Linked DNA regions of Homo sapiens. The protein of the gene in region 1 interacts with the protein of each later gene in a pairwise test. Each region holds a gene or a part of one and is shown in the gene's direction. Other genes may lie near its edges.

What was found.
Region 2: the proteins of ZNF431 (region 1) and ANXA7 interact in a two-hybrid assay, tested with the Homo sapiens proteins (one large-scale study listed by BioGRID and IntAct).

The regions. Positions count from the first base shown.
Region 1 is NC_000019.10:21,179,737-21,183,561, forward strand, and holds part of ZNF431 (zinc finger protein 431), read left to right. Parts: intron 1-2,886; coding exon 2,887-3,825. UniProt on the Homo sapiens protein: Sequence-specific DNA binding transcriptional repressor. Represses target gene transcription by recruiting HDAC1 and HDAC2 histone deacetylases. Acts as a specific transcriptional repressor for PTCH1 during embryonic development.
Region 2 is NC_000010.11:73,386,535-73,390,359, reverse strand, and holds part of ANXA7 (annexin A7), read left to right. Parts: intron 1-1,945; coding exon 1,946-2,048; intron 2,049-2,576; coding exon 2,577-2,671; intron 2,672-3,825. UniProt on the Homo sapiens protein: Calcium/phospholipid-binding protein which promotes membrane fusion and is involved in exocytosis.

The DNA.
Region 1 (3,825 bases):
TTTAGTAGAGACGGGGTTTCACCATATTGGTCAGGCTGGTCTCGAACTCCCGACCTCAGGTGATCTGTCCGCCTCAGCCTCCCAAAGTGCTGGGATTACATGTGTGAGCCACCACGCCCGGCTACATTGTCTCTTCATTCTCATTGGTTTCAAATAATTTTTTGATTTCTGATTTAGTTGTATTATTTACCCAGAAATAAAGAGGAGCAAGTTGTTCATTCAGGAAATTCATTCAGGAGTAGGTTGTTCAGTTTCGTTGTAGTTGCGGGATTTTGAGTAGCTGGGATTACAGGCGCCCACCACCACACCCAGCTAATTTTTTGTATTTTTAGTAGAGATGGGGTTTCACTATGTTGGTCAGGCTGGTCCCAAACTGTGTCATGACTCTTTATCCAGCTTGCCCTTCTGTGTCTTTCAGTTGAGGTATTCAGCCTATTACATTTAAGGTTAGTATTTTTATGTGTGATTTTGATTCTGTCCAAGTAGTGCTAGCTGCTTATTTTGCAGAGTTGTTGATGTAGTTGTTTTATAGCATAATTGATCTTTGTACTTCAGTGTGTTTTTGCAATGGCTGGTAATGGTTTTTTCTTCTTAACCTTAGTGCTTCTTTCAGGAGCTCTAGCAAGGCAGGCCTGGTGGTGATGTGCTCCCTCAGCATTTGCTTGTCTGAAAAGAATTTTATTTTTCTCCACTTATGCAGACTTACTATTGTTATTTTGTTAATTGTTGTATTTGCTTCTTGTATCTTTGTTCCTCATTTTCTCTTTTTCTGTCTTTGTGTCTTTGTTGTACTTATCTTGGTATGCTTTTACTTCTTTCTCATTTGTTTTGTGTACTTACGCAAACGTATTCTTGGGGTTACCTTGGGGATTATATAAAACCTCTAAAAGATACAACAATGTATTTTAATCTGGTAAAAAATGAACTTCAGGCCAGGTGTCGTGGCTCACACCTATATTCCCAGCACTTTGGGAGGCCGAGGCAGGCAGATCACAAGATCAAGAGATCGAGACCACCCTGGCCAATATGGTGAAACCCTATCTCTACTAAAAATACAAAAATTAGCTGGGCATGGTGGTGCACACCTGTAGTCCCAGCTACTCGGGAGGCTGAGGCAAGAGAATCACTTGAACCCAGGAGGCGGATGTTGCCGTGAGCTAAGATTGCACCATCCAGCCTGGCGACAGAGTGAGACTCCATATCAAAAGAAAAAAAAAAAAAAAAGAACTTCAGTTGCATCCAAAAATTTTTTCTCATTATATCTGCCTTCAAATTTGTCATTGATGTTGCTAATTGTATATTTTATGTTGTATATTTGCTAACAAATGTTTATAATGATTTCTATTCTTGTACCTTTCAAATTTTAGAGAATAATTAATATTTTTTGCACTATTATTATAATGCTAAGAAATTCCATTTTTGTGTATGTGCATTTTTTTTCCCAGAGAATAATGTCTTTTATATGATGTGTTGTTTTGTTGAATCATGTTATTTTCAGTAGCAGCAACGGTTTTCAGCATCTTTTATATGTAAGGCATATGAAAAGCCAATGTACTTTTTCAGTATTTGGTTATTTTTAAAGGTTTTTTTTCTTTTTACTTGGAAGGACAGATATGCTGATGGTATTATTCTCACTTTATAGCTATTTTTTTCAGGACTTTGACTATATCACACAGTTTCCTTCTGGCCTGCAAAGTTTTTGTTGACAGTTCACCGGCTATCTCATAAGACTATGCTTGTAAATGACATGTCGTTTTTATCTTGCAGCTCCATTCTCTTCTTGTCTGTGACTTTCGAAATTGTGCTTATATATGTGTTTGTTATAAATATCTTTATGTGTATCCTAGTGTATTTGTTGAGCTTCTTCATTTTGACATTATTTTTTCTTTCAGAATTTTTTAGTTATATTTTCCTTTACAATTTCTGTTTTTGGATATTTTAAATATTTTTGTTATTCTCATTTTTTCTGATTTTCTATAGTTGTCTGTGTCCTTATTTTACTCATTGAGTATTCAATTTATTTTAAATTTTTAAAATTAATGTATACATCTTTTTTATGGTTTCTTTCTGAAAATCTTATAATTTTGGTGGAGCGATTTTGCCCTATTTTGTATTCATTGTAATCTTTGATTAATATTTGGACATTAAATATAGCTACCTGTCACATTGTTTATAATGTAGCTTTGTCCTGGCATAGTCTGAAAACAATTATCTTGGTTTGAGATCCTGTGAGACTCTCAAACATGTTCTTTGAATGTGTCTTGTCTAAAATTTTGTGTTTATTTTTTAGTTAAAGGAGTTTCTGTTTCATCTTAATCAGCAGTCATTTGCTGTATCTGTTCCCTGTCTGTGGTACTGCAGTCTCTCTGTTGCTGTAACATTTACCTTTGGTCTCAGCAGAAGTAAACTGTAATTCCAAAATATACCACCATTTCTTTCAGCACTTTATGTTATGGGAGACCAGTTTCTGGAAGGGCCCCTAGAAGCAAGTAATATAGATGTATGTGCCAGTGTTTTACTTGTTTATTAAAAAAGAAACGAAAAGTTAGCAATTTACTTTGAAAGGCACTATGTTGTATTGTTGAGTAGGAAGAACTGTGTTGGGTAAATGTAACAGACTTTTCTTTTTCTTCTGTGTCTTTGCATTCCTGTGTACTCACCTGTGTGCTCACCTGGGGAACTTTACACACTTGTTTATAAGTTGTCCTCAAATATATTTTGGTCAGTATATTTTTATTAGATTTATATGTCTATGAAGGATTTAGGGCCTATGGTATTTTATTATGGCATCTTGTTTATGTAGTTTGTATAATGTAGGTTAGATTTGTAAAGTATGTTTATCAGAGTCTAGTAAGTTGAATAATTTGTTGTTTGTATTTCTTTCAGCTATGTGTTCTTATTTTACCAAAGACCTTTGGCCAGAGCAAGACATAAAAGATTCTTTTCAACAAGTAATACTGAGAAGATATGGCAAATGTGAACATGAGAATTTACAGTTAAGAAAAGGCTCCGCAAGTGTAGATGAGTATAAGGTGCACAAAGAAGGTTATAATGAGCTAAACCAGTGTTTGACAACTACCCAGAGCAAAATATTTCCATGTGATAAATATGTGAAAGTCTTTCATAAATTTTTAAATGCAAATAGACATAAGACAAGACATACTGGAAAGAAACCTTTCAAATGTAAAAAATGTGGCAAATCATTTTGCATGCTTTTACACCTAAGTCAACATAAAAGAATTCATATTAGAGAGAATTCTTACCAATGTGAAGAATGTGGCAAAGCTTTTAAATGGTTCTCAACCCTTACTAGACACAAGAGAATTCATACTGGAGAGAAACCCTTCAAATGTGAAGAATGTGGCAAAGCTTTTAAGCAGTCCTCAACCCTTACTACACATAAGATAATTCATACTGGGGAGAAACCATATAGATGTGAAGAATGTGGCAAAGCCTTCAACCGGTCCTCACACCTTACTACACATAAGATAATTCATACTGGAGAGAAGCCCTACAAATGTGAAGAATGTGGCAAAGCTTTTAACCAGTCTTCAACCCTTAGTACACATAAGTTCATTCATGCTGGAGAGAAACCCTACAAATGTGAGGAATGTGACAAAGCTTTTAATCGATTCTCATACCTTACTAAACATAAGATAATTCATACTGGAGAAAAATCTTACAAATGTGAAGAATGTGGCAAAGGCTTTAATTGGTCCTCAACCCTTACTAAACATAAAAGAATTCATACTGGAGAGAAACCCTACAAATGTGAAGTGTGTGGCAAAGCCTTTAATGAGTCCTCAAACCTTACTACACATAAGA
Region 2 (3,825 bases), on another chromosome or scaffold:
TATGAGTGGGAGGAGCTATTGACCCATAAAAGTGTTATCTTGAAAAGCTGCTGAAAGATGGGGCTTGTTCTCATCTCCTCAGTTGCTTTGCCCCCACAAATGCTGGTGTACTGCTGTATTCAATGTGTATAACTTTAAATACAGTTTCTGTTGTCTAAAAAGCATTGAATCATCTTTTATTTTGAAATGGTATTGATTGCATGTTTAAATGATAATACTTTGGAGGTATTGGATTAAATAAACTGTGTGTGTGTATATGTGTGTTTTCTGCAGTGAAAACACTTATTTTACAACAGTAATCTTTATTTTAGGTCAACATTCAAACATACAAGAAATGTGTTGTTACAATTAAAATTTTTTTAAAAAGTAGTGGAGCATCATCTTCATCCCATCCCTCTTAAGCCCTGACTTGAACACCCTAAGAAACTTCTTGAATTATTCTGGGCTGGCCGCACACCTGTAATTCCAGCACTTTGGGAGGCCAAGGCAGGGGGATCACTTGAGGCCAAGAATTCGATACCAGCCTGGGCAACATAGCAAGACCCCCGTCTCTACAAAAGTAAGAAATTAGCTGGGCATGGTGGCACATGGCTGTAGTGCTAGCTACTCAGGAGGCTGAGGCAGGAGGATTGCTTGGGCTCAGGAATTCAAGGTTACTGTGAGCTATGTTTGTGCCACTGCACTCCAGCCTGAACAACAGAGTGAGAGCCTATCTCTAAAAAATAAAAAATTGGGGGAAACTATTGAATTATTTCATAGCTTTGTATTTTAAATTGTTTTATCTTTTAATTTTGACATAATTTTAGACTTGCAAAATAGTACAAATAATTTGTATATACCCTTTACTCAGATTCTCCAAATGTTAACTTCCTACATAAACACAATGCAATGATCAAAATCAGGAAATAACATCGATATAGTACTGTTACCCAACCTACAGACCTTATTTCAGTTTCACCAGTTGTCTCAATGATGTCCTTTTTCTGGTTCAGGATCAAATCCAGAATGCAATGTTGTATTTATTGTCATGTCTCTTAAGTCTCCTTTAATCTGAAATAGTTCCTCAGTCTTTGTTGTTCATGCCCTTGATGCTTTTGAAGAACACTGTCAGTTATTTTATAAAATATTTCTTAATTTGGGTTTGTCTGATATTTTCTCATGGTTAAATCCAGGTCATGCCTTTTTGGCAAGAGTACCACAGAAATGATTTTGTGCCCCCAGTGCATCATATCAGGAGACACTTATTATTGACTTATTCCATTACTGGTGATAATTAATTTTGATCATTTAAGTTGGTGCCTGCAAGGTTTCTCTGCTATAATGTTATAGGTTATACAAATATCCTGTTTCTTTATACTTTTGCCACCTAATTTTAGCACCCACTGTTGATTCTTGCCTGAAACAGTTACTACCATAGTATTTGCTAAATGGCAATTTTTAATTTTCATATAGATTTATTTCATGTATAATAATCAGGGTCCATATAGGAAATTAAGAGAGATTACTAAAATTATATTGCTGGTTTGAAATCTCACTGGGCATTCATGTGCTACTTCACTAAAGCCATTTTATATTCTTCTGTTTTTAAATCAAACATTGTCGCTCATCTCACACCATTCAGGGATCAGTCTTCTTTTTTCTTCCTATTCTACCAAAAAGGAAACTATAGTAAGATTGTGACTTTAATTTCACAAGTTTGGCCATCTTGTCTCCTGGAAGTTTGGTGTCTGGCTATCTGTTGGCAGGAGAAAAATCTGTCCTGAAGGGGGATAGGTCTTTCCTGTCTGTTCCATAATGAGCTCTGGTAATAAAATGCTCATATCCTTGCCTTAAAACCCAAACATTGGCCTTCTTACTTAAGATTGATGTCTGGGGAAGTCTTTAAGTTTCCTCATTAGAAACTTACTGGAAATGCTGACACGGATTTTATGCCTTTTATTTTCAGCCTGCCACAGTGACTCAGGTCACTCAAGGAACTATCCGACCAGCTGCCAACTTCGATGCTATAAGAGATGCAGAAATTCTTCGTAAGGCAATGAAGGGTTTTGGTAAGGAAAACAAATTTTTGTCTTTTTTAATAAGTTAAAGTAATCAGTTCTAAAGTAAAAATAAACCTTATCTCATAAACCCAAGTTTATGTGTCAGCCTGGGTGCGCATACCTGGATTTAATCTGATGTCTAGTGCCTTGTAAGCATTCTAAGAGATGACCTCAGGCTGGGTGTGGTGGCTTACACCTGTAGTCCCAGCACTTTAGGAGGCCGAGGTGGGCAGATCACCTGAGTTCAAGACCAGCCTGGCCAACATGGCGAAACTCCATCTGTACTAAAAATAAAAAGTAAAATAGTTGGGCATGGTGATGCATGCCTGTAATCCCAGCTTCACGGGAAGCTGAGGCAGGAGAATTGCTTGAACCTGGGAGGTGGAGATTGCAGTCAGCCTAGATCACACCATTGCACTTGCACCCCCAGTCTGGGTGACAAACTCCGTCTCAAAAAAAAAAAAAAAAAAAAAAGATGACCTCAAGCAGCACCTAGCATGTACTTTGTCCTTACTTAAACATGTGTGGTTCTTCCAGGGACAGATGAGCAGGCAATTGTGGATGTGGTGGCCAACCGTTCCAATGATCAGAGGCAAAAAATTAAAGCAGCATTTAAGACCTCCTATGGCAAGGTATGTTTTTCTTTCCTGGAATGAGCACCAGCAGTGGCTGGTAGACTCTGCATTCATGTCAGATTGGATACTATATTTTGATTAGTACCTGTGGTGCAAAAGAGGGACAACTAGACTTTAGAGACCTCAAGGGTACTGTATTCCCTATTTCTGTTTTTTGTTTTGTTTTGTTTTGAGATGAAGTCTCGCACCAACATCCAGGCTGGAGTGCAATGGTGCGATCTCAGCTCACTGCCGTCTTTGCTTCCCGAGTTCAAGCAATTCTCCTGCCTCAGCCTCCTGAGTAGCTGGGACTACAGGTGCACAGCATCATGCCTGGCTAATTTTTGTATTTTTAGTAGAGACAGAGTTTCACCATGTTGGCCAGGCTGGTCTCTAACTCCTGACCTCAAGTGATCCGCCTGCCTCAGCCTCCCAAAGTGCTGGGATTACAGGCGTGAGCCACCATGCCTGGCCTATTTCTCTTAAAAGGCTTTTTCATTCTAGAGTAGTCCTTGATCTCATAATCATACCTTACCCCAGTCACATATGTGATAGACATTCAGTAGAAAGTAGATCACAACTACAATCATGATCAAGAGGATGGTTCTCAGTCTTCTGCCTGTTACAGTGGGATTCAAGGCTTATTACATAGCCCTTGTTTATTCTTGGTCCTGGGCATCGCCTTCTGCTTCTCTCCCTTTCTCTAAACGTGTCCTATGTTAAAATTATATGGACTGAGCGTGGTGGCTTACGCCTGTAATCCCAGCACTTTGGGAGGCCAAAGCAGGAGAATTTCTTGAGGCCAGGAGTTCAGGACCAGCCTGGGCAACATAGGGAGACTTCATTTCCAACAACGATGACAACAAATTATATTAGCTGGGCGTGGTGGCGTGTGTCCATAGTCCCAGCTGCTTGGGAGGCTGAGGTAGAAAGATTGCTTGAGCCCAGGAAGTCAGGCTGTTAGTGAGCTGTGATTGTGTTACTGCACTGTAGCCTAGGTGACAGAACAAGACGCTGTCTCAAAAAAAAATAATATGGAAATGCTTGCCATTCTCTGTACACGCCATGATCTTTTATGCTTCTGTGTTGTGTACATGCCATTCTCCTGGCCTTGAATACCTTTTCTTTTTTTCATGGCAAACTTCTTTAAGATTTGGCTTAAATATCAGCTA